Homo sapiens: one gene and its partner. The protein of the gene in region 2 purifies or fractionates together with the protein of the main gene of each other region. This does not show direct contact. Each region holds a gene or a part of one and is shown on either strand. Other genes may lie near its edges.

Region 1 (3,653 bases), on a different chromosome or scaffold from region 2:
AATATACACAACAAAGAATAATCTGGCCCAAAATGTCACGAGTGCCGAGACTGAGAACTCTGGCTCTGCTCCAACCTATCAGCTAGTCTAACCGATTTAGCTCAGTAATAACATTCAGACTCTGTACTCAGCTTCATTATGAGATGTTAAAGAGGATACATTTTAAATTTTTCTTCCTATGGATACCAATTGGCAGACACATTGCTAGGCCCTGAGGAGGCTGAGGGGTGGGTTAAATCTGACTTCTAGATCAATTCTTTCTTAACTCTGTCCTGGGTTTCTCAGCCAGGGAAAAACAAAACAAAATGTTCACCAAAAAAGTTACAACAGAAATCACTGTTATTTTCCAATGGGATTTTCCCTAAGTTCCTCCTAATTGCCTGGTATTTTCAGGCTGATTTCTGATCCTCTAGCCCATACCAGCAGAATAGGTACCAGGTCACTGTTCTGAGTACTTCAACACACATACACATATACCTGTACATAAGTACATGCACACACACTGACCCTGACCAACCCCTTTGAACAAGTTTGGGCCAGAGGTCAAAGTAGCATTCTTAATAGGTTAGGAAGTCAGCCAAAGTACCTACCACAGCCCCAGTGGATGAAATAACCTGGCTCAAGTCAGTTCCTGACTCAGAGGCTGCCATATACAAGGTCAACTAGTAAGCTATGAACTGCAGACTCAAGAAGCCCTGGTACACTGCAGCTCACTAACTACAAAGAACCCAAGTGCTGGCTGGGTGCAGTGGCACACCGCTGTAATCCCAGCACTTTGGGAGTCTGAGGCAGGTGGATTGCTTGAGCTCAGGAGTTCAAGACCAGCCTGGGCAACATGGTGAAACCTTGTCTCTATAAACATACAATTAGCCAGGTGTGGTGGTGCACACCTAGTAGTCCCAGCTACTCAGGAAGCTGAGGTGGGAGAATTGCTTGAGACCAGGCTGTTGAGGCTGCAGTGAGCCAAGATCGTGCCAGCCTGGACAACAGAGTGAGACCCTATCTCAAAAGCAAACAAACAAAAACCCAAATATTCTTCAGAGATCTCCAAAATGTCTTGGAAAGTGCACCATAAATCAAAGGAAGCAATACAGAGTTGAGCCTGGAGGTGTTAACTACCACCATACCCAGCTGCAGGGAAACAAATGACAATCACTTATTTTCAGCAATACCACAGGGCAGGTACTGAGGAAGCCATGTGAGCTCCTCAAGGCAGCTGTTGCCTACCTCTCCTGGGGACCTAGGAAGTGGTCTTTTTGCAGCACCAGATCTGGGGGAGGGTGGGTTGTGGCATCTTCTTTCATCTCCTTGGGTTCACATGCTGCCTCCTTCTCTGCTTGACCTGTCACCTCCAAGGGTTTCTCTTGTTCTCCAAAACCTGCTTGGCCATCTCTGGACAGGCTGTGAGAGCTGTGGCAAGAATGAATCGAGTCCGTCTCCCGATGGTCGTCATCTTGTTCGTGATACTGGTCTAGTTCACTTAGCTGAGAGCTTCCTTGACTCACATTACAGGAGGAGCCATACCTACTGCTGCTGGTGGGGCTGTGAGAATGACAGAAAGACAGATAAGTAAATAAATGCAATCAGGGACCAGGACAAAAGAAAGGAGACATCCAGGAAATAATGACTACATTAGTAGCAAGAATCAAATAGGAGGTTCCTGGGAAGAGAGGACCAAACTTCATAATCTAGAAGAATTAGTCTCTATTCAGCGAAAACACAACAGGAAAACAACACAACATGCTGGGTTCTCCAACGACACTTAACCTCAGTTCTGCACTTGACTTTGAAGTATATTTTATCTTAATAGGCTATTTGTGAGTAGGATTAAAAATTATTAAAATGGCCTGTTACTTATTCCTAAAATTCTTTATTCAGTCTTCTAAAGAAGCTTGTCCAGTGGCTGTGATTAATCTTTCTTTAATTTCCACACAGTAAAATGGAATGAATGAACTCCACTCTTTTTCTATTACTTATTACATTGAGGTCATCATTTCTTCCTCTACAATTGTAAATGTGTACGCCTGTACCTTAGGATGAGCAAAGGAGAGCAGACATGTTCTTTCAGTTATCATCTCAGTTTCCTCATCTGCAAGATGAGTTAATAGAACCCATTGGAAGATAGAGGCCAGGACCAAGAGAATACACAAACGAATGGTCTCATCAACATAAATGCTACAATGATATCCCTGGCAGCATAGGAAGCGTCCCAAAGATGAACATCTGTAACTGAGCTTCTTTCAGGGCAAGGCTCAGTTTTGGAAAGAGTGGACAAAGTCCAACTCCAGGATCTGGGTCAGAGCCGTATTCATGCATCTCTATATCTGAAGACCAGCAAGCCAATCTTTTCTCAATCACCTGTATTCCCATATCCAGAAAGTCATGAGAGAAAGCAGTTATAGCAGAGAATGTGACAGTGGCAAGAAGGGCAGAGTGGTGGAAAGAAGAGCAGTATCTAGAAGTTACTTCCTTGAGTTTTATGGCCCTGTCATCTAAGGGCTTCAGTTCTTTTGAAGAATTTTCTTACCACAGAGTCAAGCCTTTAACTAAAGGGCTTGTGTTTACCCTTGGTCAAAGAAGAGAAATCACTGTTATTTTCCAATGGGATTTTCCCTAAAGTTCCTCCTAATTACCTGGTATTTTCAGGCTGATTTCTGATCCTCTAGCCCATGCCAGCAGAATAGGTACCAGGTCACTGTTCTGAGTAGTTCAACACACAAACACATATACTTGTACATAAGTATACACACACACACACACACACACACACACACACACACACACACTGACCCTGACCAACCCCTTTGAACAAGTTTGGGCCAGAGGTCAAGGTAGCATTCTTAATCTGTACTGTATGGTACTGCTTCTTAGGGGAAATAACAGTACCCTCTGCAGATAGATCCTGTACACTGCTCGAGACTGAAGAACTACAGCAAAGGACAGCTCTGAGTTCCTGTGAGATTTTACTCAAAGCATTTATCAGACATCAGCCTTGAGGGTAGTAAAAGGCAGAGATGATACCATGGAAGAAACTATGCAAATCTGTATGGAATAGGATATGGGAATACAGACTATCCCAAGGCATCCTTTGCACTTTGTATTTTGCTTAATACACTCATTGCCACTGGAGAAAGCATCTTAGAAGACTTGAAAAAACAAAGCAAAATAGATCTATCCCCATCTCCTACAAGATATAAGTGCCTAAGGCCCAAGGAAGCATCCTAGCCTATCATGTAGTTGTAGTTAATATATACCACCAACTACTTACTACCTCTTCCTGCCCTCCTTTCTCCATTTCACATTATACAAGGCAGAGCAAACCAGAGTGAGTAAATATCGGGGGCCCAGCTTTTGCTTTAAGCAGGAAGCTCCTTGTTCCAGTAAATGAATTACATTTGGCAGAGAGAGAAGGGGAGGATGAAAATACCCACACACTGAGTTCTTGTTATTTAACCCCTAATTAACATGAAGCTCGGGTACTAGGAAAGACACAAGAAGGATAAAAAGCAAGCTATGATTAATCTACCACTAAGTCACTTGCATCATAAATGGTCAATTCCTTAAAGCCATTTATGATGCTTGAGTTAAGAACAGGCCTTTTGTTGGTCATGGGCTCCTTGATGTCATTCAGAGTGACTGGCTGCTGTACATTC
Region 2 (2,889 bases):
CCGCGCCTTGCGCCCAGGGATTCCTCCTGCCAACGCGTCCCGAGGGCATCATCGGAAAGGCGGCCAAAGGCGCTCAGCGCCAAGTTAGAAACAGCCAACATTTGGAAAGTCCTTAAGTGTGCTCCATAACTCACAGTTATTCCAGAAAGGAATAATCAAAACATTGTGATAACCCATAAAACTGACAATTGAGAAAACATTAAACTGACACAGGGGGAATTTTTTCATAAAATGAGAAAATGCTTACATTAAGAGGAGCACATTTTTACATGTGAGATACAAAAAACACACAGTATAACCTTAACTTGCCTAATAAAATGTATGTGCAGAAAAATACAAAAGGAGCCACACCAAAACACAGAGGTGTTGTTCCTGGGTAGGGGCATAGGGGCATTAAAAGCCCCCTTTCCAGCTTGCAGCGAGCCGAGACCGCGCCACTGCACTCCAGCCTGGGCGACAGAGCGAGACTCCGTCTCAAAAAAAAAAAAACAAAAGCCTCCCTTCCACCTCTGTTGTGGTTTCTGTATTTCTACAATGTTTTAAAATAAGTAAGGCTGACTCAGAAAGGCTTACTAGATATTCAGAAAAAAGATTTTATTCTTCTGCTGAAATGTTTGAAAGTGAAATTATTTTGTAGAGCATTTTCCCTTTAAACTGCAAAGAAGCCCCAAGGTCATTGGTACTTGGAAGTCCAGGGAGAAAGAGCGCTGGGTTAATGATGGAGAAAAGATAGGTGGGCAGACTGGGGCGTAGTCCCTTGGTGTGGACGCCCCAGCGTGCTCTTATTTCAGTGCTCACCCTGTTACGTGTGTCTGGGGCCACTGACTTTCTCCTGCAAGCTGTGGATCTGAATTTAACTCAAATGGGGACATGGGGGCAGGAAAAGGGACCTGAGAGTTCTAAGGGGTGGGGATGGGAAAACTGGTAAAGAAGGTGGTTTGTGGGTTTTCAGATGCACCTAGTAGAGGGAAGTGCTGGGGGGACCAGCCTCCCGGGCCAGGCTGGCTGGAGCTGCCTTAACTTTCCCACCTCTGCTCAGCCCACCAGCTTGTGGACCTGTGGCAGCGTTGTGTTGTGAGAGGCACGTGCAGATTTGGGAGTGCTGCAAACCAAAGTGTTACCTGGACGAGTAAGCCCAGTGTGGGAGTGTGGGTGTGTGGGTCTGCAGTCACAGGCTCTGTCTTTGCGATGGGATGCCATGGGAAACGCTAGGATTTTACCTGGTTTATTAAATTGCTGAGTGGCTAAAAAGATTCCTATGGGTGGGGCTGGCTTATTTCTCTTAAACGATGCCCTTCTGAGGGTACATGTGGTTTTTAGGAACACAAAAGATTCCAAGTCCCTCATGACAAACACAATTCCGGATCTCTTCCTGGAGGCCTTGCAAGGCGGAGTCCAGGCTGCTCCCTAGGAGGGCCCTGGTGACTCGAGCTTGTTGGCGATCATCTGGCTGACCTTGTGCAGGGCCTCCTGGAACTGGGGGTACTCGTCCCGCACGCGGTCCAGGATGGTGGCGATGAGAGCCAGTCGCTTGTCCAGGCGCTGGCGCTCCAGCACTAGGGACTGCTTGGAGCGGAACAGGAACACGTAGCGCCCCTCCTTCACAGCCTGCAGGTGCTTAAGGCGTGTCTGCAGGGCCACGATCTCTGAAAGGTTCTGGGTAGGAAAAGAGACTCCATATAGGGCTATGCAAACCAGAAGAAAGACACCTGCTGGCCCCCCACAAACTCAGATTCCAGGAAATGCCGAAGAGGAGGCGAGACCTACGCCTGAAAAGGGACGGCGTGAAGGTGTTGCGCCCCTGGATCTCAGGGAAGAGGCTGAGAGGCACTGGGTCGGTGCTTTATGGGTCACCCATCATCACCATCTAGGAGGCATTCTTTTTTTTTTTTGAGATGGAGTCTTGCTCTGTCGCCCAGGCTGGAGTGCAGCGGTGCGATCTCGGCTCACTGCAAGCTCCGCCTCCCGGGTTCACGCCATTATCCTGTCTCAGCCTCCTGAGTAGCTGGGACTACAGATGCCCGTCACCAGGCCCGGCTAATTTTTTGTATTTTTTTTTTTTTTAGTAGAGACAGGGTTTCACCGTGTTAGCCAGGATGGTCTCGATCTCCTGACCTCGTGATCCGCCTGCCTCGGCTTCCCAAAGTGCTGGGATTACAGGTGTGAGCCACTGTGACCCGCCGGCATTTTTTTTTTTTTTTTTTGAGGCTGTCTCGCTCTGTTACCTAGGCTGGAGTGCAATGGCACAATCTTGGCACACTGCAACCTCTGGCTCCCGGCTTCAAGCGATTCACCTGCCTCAGCCTCCCAACTAGCTGGAATTACAGGCACCCACCCCCACCACCACGCCCGGGTAGCTGAGATTACAGGCGCCCGCCACCATGCCTGGCTAATATTTGTATTTTTAGTTGAGATGGGGTTTCGCCATGTTGGCCAGGCTGGTCTCGAACTCCTGACCTCAAGTGATCCACCTGCTGCGGCCTCCCAAAGTGCTGGGATTACAGGCATGAGCCACCGTGCCCGGCTTAGGCAACCTTCTTGACACCTGCCGTGTGTCAGGCCCAGTGCCAGGCACGTTCCCCTCATCATCTCAGTTGGCCAGGCCAGAACCTTGGAGCCATTCTCCACCTCCGTCTCTGCTCACACCACAGCCAACCCAGCAGGAATCCCATCGGGCGATGTTGGCATAACGCATATGCAGAGCCTGATGGCTTCTCGCCAGCCCCACAGGGGCCGCCCTGAAGCACTGCAAATAGCCCCAGGTGCCCCCCGCATCCATGCTTCATCCACATGCAATCTTAGAGCGCGCGGGAGCCCGCTAAAGCCCAAGTCACCTCTCAGACCCAACGCCCTCCTCTGTGTGCCCACCTCCCCAAGAGAAAAGTCCAA

What was found.
Region 1: the proteins of CCDC40 (region 2) and UNC13B purify together in Homo sapiens (affinity purification with mass spectrometry; 2 studies listed by BioGRID and IntAct, with this or other methods). This does not show direct contact.

Annotation. Positions count from the first base shown.
Region 1 is NC_000009.12:35,308,356-35,312,008, reverse strand, and holds part of UNC13B (protein unc-13 homolog B), read right to left. Parts: coding exon 3,597-3,653; intron 1,543-3,596; coding exon 1,228-1,542; intron 1-1,227. UniProt on the Homo sapiens protein: Plays a role in vesicle maturation during exocytosis as a target of the diacylglycerol second messenger pathway.
Region 2 is NC_000017.11:80,098,294-80,101,182, reverse strand, and holds the end of CCDC40 (coiled-coil domain-containing protein 40), read right to left. Parts: intron 2,356-2,889; exon of another isoform or gene 2,306-2,355; intron 1,657-2,305; coding exon 1,408-1,656; 3' UTR 570-1,407; downstream 1-569. UniProt on the Homo sapiens protein: Required for assembly of dynein regulatory complex (DRC) and inner dynein arm (IDA) complexes, which are responsible for ciliary beat regulation, thereby playing a central role in motility in cilia and flagella.